2 separate regions of the Homo sapiens genome follow, and region 1 is reported to be linked to region 2. The links are microRNA targets in miRTarBase. Many come from high-throughput screens and were not tested one by one. Region 2 holds a microRNA gene; the other region holds the end of a gene's coding sequence.
Evidence for each region. Region 2 holds the annotated microRNA hsa-miR-5100 (UUCAGAUCCCAGCGGUGCCUCU, at 2,255-2,276, opposite strand). A microRNA usually pairs through its seed, bases 2 to 8, with sites in the 3' UTR of a target mRNA and lowers its output. Matches are read on the target gene's strand: a 7mer-m8 pairs with bases 2 to 8, a 7mer-A1 pairs with bases 2 to 7 and ends in A, and an 8mer does both.

Region 1: the mRNA of C1QTNF3 is a reported target of hsa-miR-5100. Seed matches in the 3' UTR shown: 7mer-m8 at 417-423, 7mer-A1 at 1,121-1,127 and 7mer-A1 at 1,473-1,479.

Annotation. Positions count from the first base shown.
Region 1 is chr5:34,016,736-34,020,940 of GRCh38, reverse strand. It overlaps C1QTNF3 (C1q and TNF related 3), which reads left to right. Exons shown (of 6, transcript NM_181435.6): 6 at 199-3,083. The coding sequence ends at 358. It overlaps C1QTNF3-AMACR (C1QTNF3-AMACR readthrough (NMD candidate)), which reads left to right. Exons shown (of 9, transcript NR_037951.1): 6 at 199-354. Among named protein-coding and RNA genes, the nearest start is that of AMACR, 11 kb to the right of the region's middle.
Region 2 is chr10:42,995,455-42,999,905 of GRCh38, reverse strand. It overlaps MIR5100 (microRNA 5100), which reads right to left and starts at 2,343; the gene lies at 2,225-2,343. RefSeq lists an enhancer at 1,976-2,476.

The sequences.
Region 1 (4,205 bases), not on the chromosome of region 2:
GAGCAGGGAGGGGTTTTGTGAGAGTGTTACTAGCCAGCTTTAGAAGTGGTACATAGGTCATTTCTGCTCACAGGCTGTTTAGAGAACTTAGCCGCAGGATTATACCTGTGGGAAGGAGAGAAGGGGAGCACAGACTTTGGTGAAGAGCTGGTTGTTCATGGCAAAAACTAAGTAGTTTGTTCCTCTTTTTCTTTCCAGCTATGAAATGAAGGGCAAATCAGATACATCCAGCAATCATGCTGTGCTGAAGCTAGCCAAAGGGGATGAGGTTTGGCTGCGAATGGGCAATGGCGCTCTCCATGGGGACCACCAACGCTTCTCCACCTTTGCAGGATTCCTGCTCTTTGAAACTAAGTAAATATATGACTAGAATAGCTCCACTTTGGGGAAGACTTGTAGCTGAGCTGATTTGTTACGATCTGAGGAACATTAAAGTTGAGGGTTTTACATTGCTGTATTCAAAAAATTATTGGTTGCAATGTTGTTCACGCTACAGGTACACCAATAATGTTGGACAATTCAGGGGCTCAGAAGAATCAACCACAAAATAGTCTTCTCAGATGACCTTGACTAATATACTCAGCATCTTTATCACTCTTTCCTTGGCACCTAAAAGATAATTCTCCTCTGACGCAGGTTGGAAATATTTTTTTCTATCACAGAAGTCATTTGCAAAGAATTTTGACTACTCTGCTTTTAATTTAATACCAGTTTTCAGGAACCCCTGAAGTTTTAAGTTCATTATTCTTTATAACATTTGAGAGAATCGGATGTAGTGATATGACAGGGCTGGGGCAAGAACAGGGGCACTAGCTGCCTTATTAGCTAATTTAGTGCCCTCCGTGTTCAGCTTAGCCTTTGACCCTTTCCTTTTGATCCACAAAATACATTAAAACTCTGAATTCACATACAATGCTATTTTAAAGTCAATAGATTTTAGCTATAAAGTGCTTGACCAGTAATGTGGTTGTAATTTTGTGTATGTTCCCCCACATCGCCCCCAACTTCGGATGTGGGGTCAGGAGGTTGAGGTTCACTATTAACAAATGTCATAAATATCTCATAGAGGTACAGTGCCAATAGATATTCAAATGTTGCATGTTGACCAGAGGGATTTTATATCTGAAGAACATACACTATTAATAAATACCTTAGAGAAAGATTTTGACCTGGCTTTAGATAAAACTGTGGCAAGAAAAATGTAATGAGCAATATATGGAAATAAACACACCTTTGTTAAAGATACTTTCTAAACTTGTGTTTAATAAACTTTAATAGTCATAGAATTGTAAATCACTATGGTTAACAGAAAGTGAAAATATTTTCATGCAGATGATGTGAACAGCCATGTGAATAGGTGACTTGGGCACACAGCAGGGTCATATGACTTCAGAAAACTTCGCTTTTCAGTTATTCCATTGTTATAATGTCAACCCTTTAAGACATTGATGTTTAGAGGGCTCACAAATAAAATCTGAATACCTGTAAGGAAAGAGGTTTTTTATCACATACCTTAAGTCTTTGTAATGTTCATGCTTAAATTCTAAGTTTTCACCTTAGTGACACACAAGGTTTGGTTGTAGGCAACAAGTCCCAGGTGTGTGGGAAATTGATTCACAACAGAGATGGGAAAAGGTGCAGATAATTTCCAATGCCTTCACAATTTACCCATGACCAGAAATATACTTGGAAGACTGATTTCACAAGTGTCCCAAAACTGAGATGCTAAAAAGGAAACAGTAGGTAGGTGTCATAGGAAATTTACATGTACCATCTAATAAACAAACTTGCAAATTCTAAATCTTTTTTTTTTTTGAGACAGTTTCACGCTGCTGCCCAGGCTGGAGTGCAGTGGCATGATCTCAGCTCACCGCAGCCTCCGCCTCCTGGGTTCAAGTGACTCTCCTACCTCAGCCTCCTGAGTAGCTGGGACTACAGGCGCCCACCACCAGGACCAGCTAATTTTTAATGTTTCTAATAGAGATGGGGTTTCACCATGTTGACCAGGCCGGTCTGGAACTCCTGACCTCAGGTGATCTGCCTGCCTCGGTCTTCCAAAGTGCTGGGATTACAGGCGTGAGCCCCCGCACCCAGCCGCAAATTCTAAATCTTAAAACAACTCTGCAAACGAAGCACTTGAGTTTCTGCTTGCTTCAGGGATGTAATATGGTGTAGAACTGTTTCACATAATGATCAGCCTTGGTAATTTTCCAGTGTAGAAAACATTATATTTGACCCTTGGACAACAAAGAGATTATATTGAAGGAATTTTATTGATTGTATCATGAATAAAAGCTGAAGTCAAAATTAAAATGTAAAAAAATAATTCAGAGGATGGAATATGCAAATGTAAACTCCAAATGATGTGGCTGGAATTCATAAACATTTACTTTATGCAAGATACTGTGCTATTCCAGGCACTCCTATGGCATTTAAAGTACAATTCTTACCTTCCCTAATTTTTCAACCTAGTAGAGGACAATAGGCTAAAGGGAATAAGTACATGGATAACAAAACATAAAGTAGAATGTTTTTACAGCCATAGAAGGCAAAGGGCTAGGAATTCACAGGAGAGAGAAACAGTATCTAGCTGAGAGCATAAGAAAAGCTTGTGGAAAAGATAATATCTGATGGCCAGAGACAATTTCTTGCTTTGGTATGTTTGAAGTGTTATATTTAAATATATATATTTTTATTTAAAAAACTCACTATAGAAAATTTATAAAATTCCCCAAAATATTTAGTATAAAATTAATCATCCCATCAAATATTAAATAATATTACTATTTTAAAGTGTTTATTTCAGTCTTTTCCTGCATGTATTTATGGCTTTTATTTTTAAATATAGTAATAAAATAATTTGAAATTAGCTTTTTATATATTTTTGTATCTTGCTCTAATGGGTTGGACTAAACATATTAAGAACACTCTCAAATGCTACTAAGGACAATTTGAAAACATAATTTTAATGACTGCATAATTTATTTAACTTTCCTGTTTTGGAAAATATTATTTTTTTTTTATTACAAATAATATGTCATGAGCATTCTCTTTTTAAAAAAATAAACTATGTGTGCATATAATTATTTCCTTTGATTAAATTTCCAGAAGTGAGATTATTTGGTAAAAAAGCCTAGACATTTTAAAAGCTGTTAATAATGTCACATTTAAAAAAAAAAAATAGCTTAAACTTATGTAAGGAGGGACTTTATTCAAAAGGATTATTGCCATAAGGGGAAGGTGACTACGACAATAGGGAAAAGGCTCTGAGATCTATGAGATCTGTAGCTCAGAGGACAAACACAAATAGGCTTTCTTTTATGGAGAGAAGTAAACAAGAACTGGGTGCAGGGGATGGGATGGGTGACAGGTATGATGGGACATTGACTAGGGAACACTTTTTCCTGAGTTCAGCCAGTTCCCTGAAGGAGGGGCCTCTAACTTTAACATGGCTCCATGTTCCAGTGCCCAAAGTGGGCCAAAGTTTAGGTACCTGGGCAAAGGGGAAAAGCCTTACTAAACTTTGGTCAAGTCAAGTTAGTTTGCATTTTGCCCAGATCGAACAGTTCAACGAACACTTCAGCTATTTATAAGACAAAAAAAGTGGGAATTTAGAGGGTCTGTGCCTGGTCATGTTCTATGTAAACAAGAAAGTTTTAAGTCATAAGAGAAAGCATGATTGTTTGCAGCAAGCCATTTCCCAGAACAAAAGGGAAGGAGGATTTTTAAAGTTCCTTTCCAAAAACACGGGGCTCAGGTAAGGTTCAACATTGCCAATAAATATTGTCAAGTTGTCCTCCAAGAAATCTGCACTTCTACTAGCAATATTTGAGAATGCTAGAAATGCTGCAGATAGGTAGGATTGTGATTCATGAGGATGGGAGACAAAGTGTTCTATGCAATGAAAAACAGTTTGGAAAAAAAAAGAGGCAGGGAAATTGCAAGCTCTTTGTATGCAACAGCATAGTGTGCAGTCAGCCTGGAATGAATTGCTGATACAGCGTTAAAGCAGGTACGGCTAGAAAGGGAGACAGAAGGAATGCCATAGGCTTTCAATGCCAAGGTGAGACCTACACTTAAATTAGCAGCTAAAGAATCACTGTTAAATTGTGATCAATATTTTGATGTAACCAGGGCTAAGTTTTAGGAAAATCAATCTGCTGAAAATGGGAGGCTTTGAGGTGCTCCCATTTTTTTTCTTTTAA
Region 2 (4,451 bases):
CAGGCCCTGTGTCTCCCAGGGACTGCCCTGGCCTGGGCTATGGCAAGTCCCGTATGTCTCCTGGAGACATCAGCTCCCGTCTGGGTGGCCAGGCGGACTCACGGGCATGGGCCAGCACAGGGTGTGGCAAGAGAGATCAGCTGGGAGAGGAGAATTGGGGACTGCAGGCCTTGGTGCCTGCTGACCTCCACCCCTCTGAAGAGAGCCTGGCTCAGGGCTTCTGGACTCAAAGGAGGGCAGGCAGGACTCCCCAGTTGTCCTGGGCCTGTGTGAAGGTCCCCCTGGAGCTCCTAGGGGTCACCAATGCATAGCCAGGCAGGTGGTGCACTGTGGCAGCTCCAGGGAGAAAGATGCACTGGACCATGAGGCCAGGCAGCAGGGCTGTGATCAGCAGGAGGGTAGGAGAACAGAGGGGCTCAGAGGTGGACGTCCTATGTGGTTGGCTTGCAGGATCCGGGGACACTTCTGACGCTAGGGGACATGCTGGGGCTGTGGACAAGGATCATGGAGTGGGCAGCCCTTGAAGGCATCTGAGACATGCTGATGACACGACGGGCGTTGGGGGCTGACAGTGCAAGGCAGCCATAGGCCTGTGGCCAGTTCTAGGGCAGCTGTCACGGACAGGCACAGATGTCCTGGCTGGGGTCCTGAGAAGCTCCCGAGAAAGGTTTCCATGGGCCTCAGAAGCCAGGCTGTGTCCCACAGCACAGATGCAGGCCCTGGGCATCTTACCCTCCTGGGTGACCCTGGAGGGGCCAATCACAGGTGGGGCCTGCAGAGACACTAAGGCTTCAAGGCCAGGGCCTCGCGGGCTGCATCCTCTGTATCCCCAGGGCTCCCTGGAGAGTCCTGCTTTCCCACTTCCAGGAGACACATCTGCTAGGCAGGTGTGGTGTTCTGGGCCAGGAGCCTCCCACTTGGCATGTGGTCCTGGGCTCTGGGCTCTTCACCTACAGGTCAAGCCTGGGACCTGTTGTCCATGGCCAGGACTGGCACAAATCTGATCCTTTTGTGGAGGTCAGCAGTCTGTCTTCCAGCTTTTCTGCCACCAGCTAATGCTTATCTGGTATGAGCTGTGCCCGGCATTTGCTGGGCTCTTTACACCCTGAGGAGACTGCTCTCACACCCCTGTTCTACAGGGGGAAACTGAGGCTCACTGGGGGTTTGTGGCATGCCCCCGGCCGCAGCAGCTTGAGTGTCTTAGTCAGGTTTACAACCCACTGGCTGGATCCACAGCTCAGGGAGCCTTTCTCCACAGTGACATAAACTGTGGGGTCACTCCCTCAGCTCATGGCTATGGACCTCACGGCCCCTAAGTGCTGGCTGAGGAAGTACGACCATCCCACCCCTCCATGAGGGTCCCTGCCTGGAAGCACAGGGAGCACAGATGCTTCCTGGGTGCAGCAGCCCTGAGCCATGCCCCACTCTCGGGCTCTGCATTAGTTAAGGTTTTCCCGAGAAACAGAAGTGATAGGATGCGTGTGTGTTTATTAAAGGAGATGGATGGCAAGGAATTGCTTCATGAGATAGTGGAGTCTGAGAAGTCCCCAGATCTGCTGCTGGCCAGCTGGAGCCCCAGGAGAGCTGATGGAGTTTGTCCCAGTCTGAAGGCCAGGGGCTTGACATGCATGAAGAGCCTGTACTTCGGTTCAGGTCTGAAGCCTGGAAAAGACCAAGCTCCCAGCTTAAGGCAGCCAGGCAGAATGAATTATCTCCTACTTGGCCTTTGTGTTCAGCTTAGGTCTGCGACAGGTTGGATGGGTCTACCCACACTGGGAGGCTGTCTGCTTTGCAGTCCATGGATTCAAGTGTTCATCTCACCCAGAGCCCCCCTGACACACACCCAGCATAATGTCTGGCCAAACATCCAGGCCCCCTGTGTGCCAGTCAAGCGGACGTGTGAAATTAACCAATGTGGGCTCTGAGATTCCAGGCCCAGGAGACCCACATCCTCCAGCTTCTGCTGATGTGCCCTGGGGTCCCTGGGGACAGGCTCTGGCTTGGTGCCTGGATGGGGTTGGGGCCACTCAGCAGCATGTCACCTGGGCACGTCCTTCACACCCCAAGCCACCCGCCTCCTCTGTAAGTGGGCTGTACTGCCTTAACTGATGACCCCTGCAGCTGCTCTGAAAACTGGTCCCAGTGGAAGTGACATGAAGACCACCTCCTCAGGTGTGTCCCTGTTAGCTAAGACCAGATGAGGATGCTGGGACTGGGCAGGGTCAGCTGACTGCCCAAGGTCCTGTGGCCAGTTAGAGGCACCGCTGGGATCTGAACCCATGTGGTCTAGCTCCAGAAGCCACGCTCCTACCCCCAGGCCATCCCACTGCCAGCTCCTCATGGCTGTTTCTGAAGGTGATGGAGGGACTCACCAGCCCAGGTTCCCAGGACTGTCTGGGCTTTGTGGCAGGAAACTGGGGCAGAGCAGGGGCCTCCGGGTGGGAAGGATGACCCTTTCCCAGCAAGACAGGACCTCGTCTCTTGCTAGAGCCCAGCTGGGGTTAGGTTTGGGATAGTGTGCTCAGGACATGTGATCAGAGGGAAGCTGGAAAGCTCTGAAGGGGGAAGGCTCCCCACACATGGATAATCCCTCATACAGAGACCCCAGACTCAGCATAGGATCCCAGACAGAATGGCCTTCACACGCTGCCTGGCTCCTTCCAAAATCAATACAGGCTCTTAAAATGCTGAAATAGTTCTGGTGCATGCTGAGATTTGTTGGACTGAGTTTAAAATCCTGGTGTGTGTGTGTGTGTGTGTGTGCGTGCGTGCGTGCACTGAGAGTGCTGGTGAGCTTGGAGAGGTTCCAGTCTTAAAAAGGACCCTGGCCCCGAGAGGCCACCTGACCACCAAGAACAGCCCGTGTAATTCTGGAAGGTGGATTTGGGATTCCTGCTTTCATGCCCTGAGGGCCCCTGAGGGCTCAGGACTGAGGGACAGAGGCTGCTGGGATGAAAAAGGTGCATCCCTGGCTGGGAAACTCCAGGCTTGGGTGGGCTTCTGCTGAGACCCAGCTCCATGCAGAGGTTCATACTGCCTGTGCCTCAGGGACCAGCATATCCACCTCCTGTCATCCAGTTGAGGCCTCAGGGCTCCCAGGGAAAGGAGCAGGGTCCCCCCAAGCCCAGGATACCAGGACCAGCCGGGCTCCAGCCCCACCCCTCCTTGTGCATTTCTGCCCTCCCAGGCTTCCCTGCGCCTTCATTACCAACCTTGTCCTCAGCAACCACGGCTTGTAAACCATATTCCACGTGCTTGGGTTTTCCCTCTGGACACACAGGCTCTGAGAAGATGGTTTAGGCAGTTCCCAACTTCACGATCACAGCAGGTCCTGCCAACCCACCCTGGACCGTCCCTAGCCTGGACCAGGGACACCCCACCCATGGGAGGATGGGTTGGAGCTGTCCTGGAGCTAGGCTGGACTGGGCCCTGCAGCCTCCAGGCAAATGCCTTTTCCTTTACAAAGCTGGTAAAGTGCTCTAGGTCACTCACCCTTGGAGGATCTCTCTGCTGCTTCATCATCTGGGAGTCGCTGTCTCCATTCCCAGGGATTCTCTGTGTCTTTAAGTCTAAGTTGGGGATTGGCCCGGCCACACCAACTTTCATCCCATCCGTATTTACACTCCACGGCTTTCCACACCCTCTTGCCTTCTACCTTTCTATACTTCACTGTGACCTCTGTAAGCAACGTCTGACACAAGACTTTGCTTTTGTGTCCAATCTGACAGTCTCTGTTCAGTACATTCATGGTTACTGTTTTCTCTGGATCTAGGAAAATTTATTTCCACCACTTATTTTTTTGTCCTGGCTTCTGGACTTCCATTTTCTCTCTCCTTTCCTAACTTCTATTAGAAATACTCAATTTTCTGTATTCTTTTTCTTCTTCCCAATTGCTTGGAAGTTATGGTAGGCTGATCATGACTCCCACAGATACACCCATGTCTAATCTGGAACCTGTGAATATCACCTGTATTGCAAAAGATGTGATCGAGTGAGGGACCTTGAGAGGAGGAGCATGTCCTGGGTCATCCAGGGCCCTAAATACCATGTATCCTATAAAAGAGAAGCAGAGGGAGTTTTGACCCAGACCTGCACAGGGGACAAGGCCCTGTAAACAGAGAGCAGGCATTGGAGAGACATGGCCCAGCTCAGGAATGATGCCAGCTGTGGGAAGCTGGAAGAGGCCAGGAAGGCTCCTCCCCCGAGCCTCAGAGGGAGCATGGCTCTGCCTCCTCCACACCTTGATTTCTGTCTCCTGGCCTCCAGGATTGCAAGAGAATACATTTTTGTTGTTATAAACTACCAGACTTGTGGTAACTTCTTATAGCAATCACAGGAAACTAACACAGAGATCATATTTTCTATTTCTTTAATAAATTGTCCTAAAGTTTTAATACCTGTGCTAGAAAGGCATGCTCCTTGTGTAGACACAGCCCGTGTCTCCCCCTGCT